2 separate regions of the Homo sapiens genome follow, and region 2 is linked to region 1. Evidence: fine-mapped expression QTL. A gene starts in region 1. The other region holds a variant in brackets. All regions are shown on one strand. Distances are from middle to middle.

The links.
Region 2: its variant is fine-mapped to the expression of OXCT2 in esophagus muscle (GTEx, PIP above 0.99).

The regions. Positions count from the first base shown.
Region 1 is chr1:39,768,674-39,773,902 of GRCh38, forward strand. OXCT2 (3-oxoacid CoA-transferase 2) reads right to left here and starts at 2,675. Exons shown (of 1, transcript NM_022120.2): 1 at 850-2,675. The coding sequence starts at 2,582. The coding sequence ends at 1,029. All of the region lies in intron 3 of BMP8B (bone morphogenetic protein 8b), which reads right to left. RefSeq lists enhancers at 2,048-2,721, 2,722-3,394 and a silencer at 2,608-2,707.
Region 2 is chr1:39,532,110-39,537,595 of GRCh38, forward strand. It overlaps the pseudogene PPIEL. Among named protein-coding and RNA genes, the nearest start is that of PABPC4-AS1, 30 kb to the right of the region's middle. The variant C/T (reference allele first, on the strand shown) is at 2,573.

The DNA.
Region 1 (5,229 bases):
AAACCCTATCTCTACTGTTAAAAATATATATACAAAAATTAGCTAGGCATGGTGGCACATGCCTGTAATCCCAGCTACTTGAGAGGCTGAGACATGAGAATTGCTTGAACCCAGGAAGCAGGGGTTGCAGTGAGCTGAGACTGGACCACTGTACTCTAGCCTAGGTAACAGAGCGAGATTCTGTCTAAAAAAGAAAAAAAATTACAGTAAGCTAAGGTTAATTGGCCCAACTCAGTGGCTCATGTCTGTAATCCCAGCACTTTGGGAGGCTGAGGCAAGTGGATCGCTTGAGCTCAAGTGTCCAAGACCAGCCTGGGCAACATGGTGAAACTCCATTTCTATAAATAAATTTAAAAAATAAAAAAAAATAAGCAGGCATTGTGATGTGCGCCTGTAGTCCCAGCTACTCAGGAGGCTGAATTAGGATTGCTTGAGCCCAGGAGGCAGAGGTTGCAGTGAGATCACTGCATTCCATTGCATTCCAGCCTGAGCGACAGAGCCAGACCCTGCCTCAAAAAAAAGAAAAAAGAAAGAGAAGGAAAAAGAAAAAACAAGCTCGTGAAGATAGCATGTCTTCCAATCACAAACTCACATCTTTGCTCGCCTATTTCTCACTGCAGTAGTAAAATGTCCCTTCAGGTGTACTCTGGGTTGAGTGATTTTCTCCCTCGTCAGTTTTTATCTCCATTTCATGGTTCAAGTACGAGGGAGGCGCTTGAATCAAATCTTGCTGTGAATGCACTGAGCTGTGCACGCTCTGTGTAAACATCACAGAGCAAAGCGGACATCCATTCCTCACCACTGCAGACCTGCGCCTTGCAGTGCTCGAGAAACACAGTGAGGAACTGATCTGTTTTCCTGTTGTTTTTAATTAAAGTCGCAGCTCTCTAGAGGAGCACTGTCCACCTAGGGAGGAAAGTAGGAGGCCAGTAGCAAACCCCTCCCAGAGCTGGGGACATGTATTCCCCTGGGGAACCCGGTGGCACCCGCCCTGAGGAGCGCACCACCCCGCCCAGATCCAGGTCCCGTCAGGGTGCCACCTGCTGCATGGGCCTGAGGTTCGGGGACACAGCAAAGGCACACCCCGTGCTCTTTTTGATGTCGTCCACCGTCAGGCCCTCCCAGAGCTCCCTCAGCGTCAGCTCTTTCTTCCTGTGCACGTCAAACACGGCCTTCTCGGTGATGATGCGGTCCACGCACCGCTTCCCGGTCAGCGGCATGGTGCATTTCTCCATGATCTTGGGGGTGTTGTCCTTTGTGCAGTGCTGCATGGTGACCACCACTCTGGTCTTCTGACTGGACACCAAGTCCATGGCACCGCCCATGCCTTTCACCTTCTTGCCAGGGATCATCCAGTTCGCCAGGTCGCCGTATTTGGAAACCTGCATGGCTCCAAGCATGGTTAGTTGGATGTGTCCCCCTCGGATCATGGCGAAGGAGTCGTCGCTGGCGAAGAAGCAGCCCCCGGGAAGCACCGTGACCGTCTGCTTGCCTGCATTGATGAGGTCGGCATCCACCTCATCTTCCGTGGGAAACGGGCCCAGGCCCAGGATCCCGTTCTCACTGTGAAGATGGACAGTCATGCTGGGACTGATGAAGTTGCTGGCCAGCAGGGGGATGCCTATGCCCAGATTGGCGTACATGCCGTCCTCAAATTCCAGAGCTGCGCGTCTGATGATGCGCGTCCTGGCGTCCTCTTCCTTTCCAGCGTCTCCATCTTCCTCTTTCAGGATCGTTAAGCGCTCAATTCGTTTCTCGTATTTCTGCCCCTTTATCACGCGATCTACATAAATGTTAGGAACGTGGATGTCTTCTGGGGGGAAAGCCCCCACCTCCACGATCTCTTCCACCTCCACCGCCGTGACGTCTGCAGCTTTGCACATGGGCACGTTGAAATTGCGGGCGCTTCTCCTGAAGACCACGTTTCCTGCCCGGTCGGCCTTCCACCCTTTCACCAGGGCGAAGTCTGCCCGGATGGCGCGCTCCAAAAGGAAGTGGTCGCCGTTGAACTCCCTCACCTCTCGGGGCTGGCTCATGAGCGCCAGGTGGCCGTCCGGGGTGTAGCGGATGGGGGCGCCCCCTTCCTGGACCAGGGTCCCGTAGCCCGTGGGGGTGTAGAAGGCGGGCACCCCGGCGCCCCCCGCGCGGATGCGCTCGGCCAGGGTGCCCTGGGGCGTGAGCTCCAGCTCCAGCTCTCCTGCCAGGTACTGGCTCTCGCACAGGGTGTTCTCGCCCACGTAGGAACAGACGATGCGACGGACCTGCCTGGCGGCCAGCAGGAGGCCCAGGCCGAAGTCCTCCACGCCCACGTTGCTGCTGACCACCTGCAGGTCTTTCACGCGGGTCCTGAGCAGCGCGGCGATCAGGTTCTCGGGGATCCCGCAGAGCCCGAAGCCCCCGATCATGACGGTCGCCCCGTCAGAGATGTCCTTCACCATCTCCACCGGGTCCGCGTAGAACTTGGCACGGAGCCGGGGACTGGTGGCAAAGCAGCGGGCGCAGCCCTGGGACAGCGCGAGCCCTGAGCCGCCGGCGGGGACCCCGCGCCCGAGCACTGACGCCAGGAGCCGCAGCGCCGCCATAGTCGGCCCGGGTCGGAGGCCAGGACAGGTGGTGTGAGCCCTGCGTGCGCCTCGGGCCGCGCGTCACAGAGCAGGGCGGGCGCCCGCGCCCTGACGCACTCCCTCCCAGCAGGTCTCCCCGGCCAGGCGCAGGCTCTAGGCTAGGCCCGCGACCCGCAACAGGGAGGGGGCCGGCTCCGCCCTGGGCTGGGGGCCCCCGAGTCAGTCCTCCGTGTCCAGCGCACAGGCCCGGGCGCAGGACAGAGCTGAGGTCAGGCTCCGCGAGAAGGGCACAGGCTAGGTCCCCTCCTGCCCCAGTGGAGCCTCAGACACAAACTCCAACCACCCCGCCCAAGCTTCCCCCCAGCTTCCCCAGCTCATTAAAGACACCAAGTGTCCAATGAGCAGGCGCCGCTGGGTGACACCGACGCTCATGAACACCTTCACTGGGCATCACTCTGTGCCAAGCACCCTCCTTTAATCCTGTGACAACCCGGAGAGTGAGTGCCTGCCCCACTACAGCCTCCCAGAGCTCAGGTTCACCCCTCACTGCGACAGTGGGGACAGTATCCCTCACCTCCATCAGGAAGGGTCCCTGCTCTGAAGAGGCCCCCCGTCTTGTCCTCTGCATCCCCCCGCCCTCTCCACCTCCCCCACTCCAGCTCCCTGCTCCAACTTGTGCGGAATTTTGCAGTTTTCTTCCCTCTGCACAGAATCACTGCATCACCACAGCAGCGTGCAGGCGTCTCCTCACCTGGAAAGGACCTGCCTTGTCCCGGGTTCTCTCCAGCCCCAGCCCATGTCTCTGCTCCCCTTCCCCAGCAAAGGTTCTGGAAAGAGCTGTCTCCTGCCTCCACTGCCTGTCTCCCTCCACCTCCTCAGTCAGACCCACACTCCACGGATATTTAGGTCATCAACAACCTCTGTGATGGCAAAACCCTTGGTCACTTCTCTGTTCTTGCCTTCAGTGCCCACAGCAGGACACAAATGACAAACCCTTGCTTCTGGAAACACTTTACTCTGGCGTCTAGATCACCTCATCCTCCAGGTGTCCTGCTCCCTCCCTGGCTGGTCTCTGTGGGCTCTCTGTGGCCCCTCCTTGTGAGGTCTCTGGATGTTGGAGGTCCCAGGGCTCTGGGCCAGGCCCTCTTTCTTCTCCATCACTACCCTCCTTCCCTAGATGACCTGGTCCCATCCCATGCTTTAAATCCACTTACATGCCAGCACCTCCCTCGCCTGGGTCTTCACACTCACCGGTCCCTGTAATGGCATTTCCATGAGGACCAGTGATCTCAGTAACATCCCAGGGGGGTCAGTAATATTCCAGCCAAAAGAGAACCCTTGGCCACCCACCTCAAACCTGCCCTTCATCTATCTTTTCCCCAAAAAGAAAAATCTATTGAAAAAAATCCACTGGCTCCAACCACACATCATTCAGGCTTCCTCCTGTTCCCTCACCTCCTCGCCAGCTATAAGCATGTCCTGACACTGAAATCGACTCATCTTTCTCCATCTCCACTGCTACCAACAAGTCGCTCACAGCGCCCACCTGGACCACTGTGGGGCCCCCACACGTCTCTCTGACTTCACTCTTGTCCATCTCAGTCTGCTCTCTCCACTGAAGTCAGGGGGTTCTTTATTTTATGCATATATTAAGTTTTAATTTTACAACAGTTGATAGTTACATAAAACTTTGTAAAGATAGTACAGAGGCTAAGGTGGGAGGATCGCTCGCGCCCAGGAGTTGGAGGTTACCGTCAGCTGTGATTGCGCCACTGCACTCCAGCCTGAGCAACAGAGCCAAACCCTGTCTCAAAGAAAAAAAAACTACACAAGGAGTTCCCATACACCTGGACCCAGTTTCCTCTGGGAAATGCTAATATTTTACACTAGCAGGGTACCTTTCTCATAACTAATGAACCAATACTGATACCTTATTATTAAGTAAACACCATGATCGATCTGGATTTCATAACTTCTCCCTAATGACCTTTTGCTGGTCCAGGACTCAACCCAGGACCCCACATGCACTGAGCTGGTCTTCTTAGGTGCCTCTGGGCTCCTCCAATTTCCCAACCTTCCCTTTTTTTTGATGAGCTTGGCGGTTTTGAGAAGCGCTTGTCAGGTATTCTGCGGAAAGCCCTTCTCTTTGGGTTTGTTTGACGGTTTTCTCGTGGCTGGACTGGGGTTTTGGGTTCACGGAGGGGGCCCTCTGAGGCTCAGTGGCCTTCTCCTTCCCTTTCACCCAGGGCACATGCTAGCACCGTGCCGGTCACTGCAGTGAGCCTTCCTCACCTGGCTGAGGCGCTGCGCGTCAGGTCCCCCACGCCCTGTCCACACCGCACTTTCGGGAAGCAAGTCACTGGGTGCAGCCCACGGAAGGGGTGGGGAGCTCTGCTCCACCCCGAGAGGGGGGCATCTCAGAGGGTTCTCTTTTAAAACCTGAATCAGATCCTGTCGTCCTCCACTGCTAGTAAATAAAATAAATGACGCTAAGAACCCCAGCACCTGGCCCTGGTTTACTCTGACTCAGAATGGCCCCTGGGTCCCCCGCCCTCACCGCTGCTCCATGGCGCCCCCTTGCCGGGCCTCAAACACACCCATCTCGTGCCCACTTTGGCCTCTGTATTCCTACTGCCTGGCATAAAAGAGGCTCTCCCCAGTGTCA
Region 2 (5,486 bases), 240 kb before region 1:
ATAGACAATTATCAATAGTATAAAGAACAAAAACCACATAATCATCTCAGATACAGAAAAAGCAGTAGACAAAATCCAACACCTTTTCATAATGAAAACTCAATAAACTAGGAGTGGAAGGGGGAACTTTCTCAATCTGATAAAAGGTATCAACAGAAAACTACATGTGAAAGACAAGATGCTTTCCCCCTAAGGTCAGGAACAAGACGAGGATATCTGCCCTTGACACTTCTATTCAACATTGTACTGAAGGTTCTAGCCAGGGTAATTAGGTGAAAAAAATGAAATGAAAGGCATCCAATCGGCAAGGAAAATGTAAAGCTATTTCTATTTGCAGATGACACACTCTTGCATATAGAAAATCCTAAAAAATCCACAAAAAAAACTATTAGAACTAATAAACAGGCCGGGCATGGTGGCTCACGCCTGTAACCCCAGCACTTTGGGAGGCCAAGGTGCGCGGATCACAAGGTCAGGAAATTGAGACCATCCTGGCTAACACGGTGAAACCCCATCTCTACTAAAAATACAAAAAATTAGCCAGGCGTGGTGGCGGGCGCCTGTAGTCCCAGCTACTCAGGAGGCTGAGGCAGGAAAATGGCGTGAACCTGGGAGGTGGAGGTTGCAGTGAGCTGAGATCGTGCCACCGCACTCCAGCCTGGGCGACAGAGTGAGACTCCATCTCAAAAAAAGAAAAAAAAAAGAACTATTAAACAAGTTTAGCAATGTTGCAGAATACAAAATCAATATACAATTGATTATATATATTTTTGTAGAGATGAGGTCTCATTATGTTGACTCGGGCTGGTCTCAGACTCCTGGACTCAAGTGATTTTCCCACTTCAGTCTCCCAACGTGCTGGGATTATGAGTGTGAACCACCATGCCTGGCCTGTTTTGTGGTTTTCAAAGTATAAGCTGTATACATCTTTTAAACTTATTCCTAAATATTTTATTCTTTTTTATGCTATTGTAAGTATAATTGTTTTTCTTTTTATTCTGTTTTCAGGTTGTTCATTGCTGATGTATAGAAATATAATTGCTATATCTACGGCCAGGCACGGTGGCTCACACCCGTAATCCCAACACTTTGGGAGGCCGAGGCGGGCAGATCACAAGGTCAGGAGATCGAGACCATCCTGGCTAACATGGTGAAACCCTATCTCTACTAAAAATACAAAAAATTAGCTCGGCGTGGTGGCGGGCGCCTGTAGTCCCAGCTACTCAGGAGGCTGAGGCAGGAGAATGGCGTGGACCCGGGAGGTGGAGCTTGCAGTGAGCTGAGATGCTGCCACTGCACTCCAGCCTGGGCGACATAGCAAGACTCTGTCTCAAAAATAAGAAAAGAAATATAATTGCTATATATATATGTGTGTGTATTTTTTTTAGAAGAGTCTTGCTCTGTTGTCCAGGCTGGAGTGCAATGGTGCAGTCACAGCTGTCTACAAAAATATTTTTTAAAATTAGCCAGGTGTGGTGGTGTGTGCCTATAGTTCCAACTAGTTGTAAAGCTGAAACATAAGGACCACTTGGGTACAGGAGTTCCAAGACTGTGGTGAGCTGTGATTGCACCACTGCACTCCAGCCTGGGCAATACAGTGAGACCCTGTCTAAAAAAAAAAAAAAAAGAATGAGAGAAACTATTTGCAAATTATACATCTGATAAGAGACCTGTATCTAAAATATTTAAAGAATTCTGACTCGCTAGGCATGGTGGCTTACATCTATAATCCCAGCATTTTGGGAGGACAAGGTGGCAGGATTGCTTGAGCCCTGGAGTTCGAGACCAGCCTAGATAACATAGCAAGACCCCATCCCAATTAAAAAAAAAAAAAAAAGAAAACCAAAGAACATTACTGAAAAACACTGAAGAAGACCTAAACAAATGAAAAGATATCCTGTGTTCATGGATCAGAAGACTTAATATTGTTAAGATGATGATACTCCTAAATTCTTCACATTCAGTGCAATCTGTATTAAAATCCTAGCTGGCTTTTTTCATACGAGTTGATAAGCTTATCCCAAAATTCTTAAGAAATGTAAGAGACTCAGGATAACCAAAACAATCTTGAAAGGAAAAACAAAGTTGGAGGACTCGCATTTCCAGAATTAAAAATTTACTACAAAGCTATGGAATTTAAGACACAGTAGTAATGGCCTAATAACAGACATACAGATCAACAAAATATAATTTAGAATCCAGAAGAAACCCTTACATTTATGGTCAACTATATTCACCAAGGATACCAAGACAATTAAACAGGAAAAAAACTAGCCTTTTCAACAAATGGTGCTAGGACGACTGAAAATCCACATGTAAAAGAGTAACGCTGGACCACTTTCCTCACACTATACACAAAAATTAACTTCAAATGGAGTAAAGACTTCAGTGTAAGAGAGAAAACCATAAAATACTTAATAGAAAGTGTAGGAGTAAATCTTCATAATCACTACACCAAAAGTACAAGTGACAAAAAAAGATAAATTAGACTTTATCAAAATTAAAATATTTTGTGCTTCAAACGACGCCATCAAAAAAGTGAAAAGACAACCTATAGAATGAAAGAAAAGGC[C/T]GGGCGCAGTGGCTCACGCCTGTAATCCCAGTACTTTGGGAGGCTGAGGCGGGTGGATCACTTGAGGCTAGGAGTTTGGGACCAGCCTGGGGAACGAAGTGAGAGCCCCATCTCTACAAAAAATAAGAAAAAATTAGCCAGGCATTGTGGTGCATGCCTGTAGTTCCAGCTACTTAGGAGTCTGAGACAGAGGGATCACTTGAGCCCAGGAATTTGAGGCCACAGCAAGCTGTGACTGTGCCACTGCACTCCAGTCTGGTCAACAGAGCAAGACCCCGTCACTACAAAAATAAAAAAAGAAGGACTCTTGACTATATTTGGTCAGGTGTGGTGACTCATGCCTATAATCCCAGCACTTTGAGAAGTGAAGGCAGGCGGATCACTTGAGGCAAGCCTGGGCAACACAGGGAGACCCTGTCTCTACAAAAAATAAAATTAGCTGGGCCTGGTGGCATGCACCTGTAGTCCCAGCTACTTGAAAGGCTGAGACAGGTGGATCACTTGGGCCCAGAGGGTCAAGGCTGCAGTGAGCTGTGATCACATCACTGCACTCCAGGCTGGGTGACAGAGTGAGAACCTGTCTCAAAAAACAAAAAACAAAAGAATTCTTACTCAACAATAGAAAGACAAATAATCCAATTAAAAATTGGTAAAGGGTCTGAAGAGACATTTTTCCAAAGAAGATATAGAGAAGGCCAATAAACACATGAAAAGATGCTCAACATCATTAACTAGCACGGAAATGCCAATCAAAACCACAATGAGATACCACTTCACATCACTAGGATAGGTCTAATAAAAAAAGAAGGATAATCACAAGTGTTGGTGAGGGTATAGAGGCATCAGAAACATCATACACTGCCGTTAAGAATGCAAAATGGGGCAGTGGCTCATGCCTGTAATCCCAGCACGTTGGGAGGCCAAGGCGGGCGGATCACAAGGTCAGGAGATCAAGACCATCCTGGCTAACACGGTGAAACCATGTCTCTACTAAAAATACAAAAAAATTAGCCAGGCGTGGTGGTAGGCGCCTGTAGTCCCAGCTACTCGGGAGGCTGAGGCAGGAGAATGGCGTGAACCCGGGAGGCGGAGCTTGCAGTGGGCTGAGATTGCGCCACTGCACTCCAGCCTGGGCAACAGAGTGAGACTCCATCTCAAAAAAAAAAAAAGAATGCAAAATGGTACAGCCACTTCAAACAGTCTGGTCGTTTCTCAAAACATTAAAAATAGTTATCAGCCAGACACGGTGGCTCATGCCTGTAATCTCAGCACTTTGTGCAGATCACTTGAGGCCAGGAATTCGAGACCAGCTGGCCATCATGGCAAAGCTCCGTCTCTACTAAAAATACAAAAATTAGCCGAGTATGGAGGTGCATGCCTGTAATCCTAGCTAGGGGAGGCTGAGGCAGGAGAATCTCTTGAACCAGGGAGGTGGAGGTTGCAGTGAGCCGAGATTGTGCCACTGCACTCTAGAGTGAAATTCTGTCTCAAAAAAAAATAAATAAATAGTTATATAACCCAGCATTTCCAATTCTATGGCTACATCTAAGAGAAATGAAAACATATGTCTACACAAAAATTTGTATGTGAATGTTCACAGTGGCATTATTTGTAATAGCCAAAAAGTAGAAACAATCTATCAACTTATGAATGGATAAACAAATGTGGGGTGCAGACAGTGGGTATTAATTGGCAATAAAAAGGAATGATGGGGCCGGAGGCGGTGGCTCACGCCTGTAATCCCAACATTTTGGGAGGCCAAGGTGGGCAGATCACGAGGTCAGGAGATCGAGACCATCCTGGCTAACACGGTGAAACCCCATCTCTACTAAAAATACAAAAAATTAGCCAGGCGTGGTGGCGGGTGCCTGTGGTCCCAGCTGGGAGGCTGAGGCAGGAGAATGGTGTGAACCCAGGAGGCGGAGCTTGCAGTGAGCCGAGACTGCACCACTGCAATCCAGCCTGGGTGACAAAGTGAGACTCCATCTCAAAAAAAAAAAAAAAAAAAAAAACCAAAAACCAAAACAAAAAGAAAAAAAAGGAATGATGTACTGATACATGCTACAACATGGATGAACCTTGAAAACATTATGCTAAGTGAAAGAAGACACTCACAAAAGCCTACATATTGTATGATTCCACTTATATTAAATGCCTAGAATGGGAAAATCCATAAAGACAGAAAGTAAATTCGGGTTTCCCAGGGCAGGGGACCAACAGGATAAGTAGCAACTGCTAAAGGGTATGAAGTTTCCTTTTGGGGGATAAAATGTTCTAAAATTATTTGTGGTGATGGTTGCACAACTCTGTGAATACATTAAAAACCATTAAAATGTGTACTTTAAGTGGGCAAACTGGATGGTATGTAAATAATATCCTACTAAAGCCGTTAAAAAAAAAAGATAATTACACTACAAAATGGCAAAGCCCAGTGACAGAGACATTTGTGCATAGAATGGGAGCACTAGAGTCACCTAAGTGTTTGTGAAAAAGAGAAACAGATACTCACACAAACACTCATCATGAAGGCTTTCTGAAGGAGGTGATGTCTGAGTTCAGTCTAAAAGGCCTGGGGCCAGGCACCGTGGCTCACGCCTGTAATCCCAGCACTTTGGCAGGCCAAGGCAGGAGGATCACTTGAGTCCAGGAATACAAGACCAGCCTGGGCAACAGAGAAAAATCCCATCTCTACAAAAAATTTAAAACTAGCCAGGTGTGGTGGCATGTATCTATAAGTCCCAGCTACTTGGGAGGCTGAGGCAGGAGGATTGCTTGAGCCCAGGAGGTTGAGGCTGCAAGTGAGCCAAGATCATGTCACAGCACTCCAGCTTGGGAGACAGAGCAAGACTCTGCCTCAACAACAACAAAACAAACAAATAAAAAGCCTGGGTTTGCCAGGGGACTAGGGGGCGTA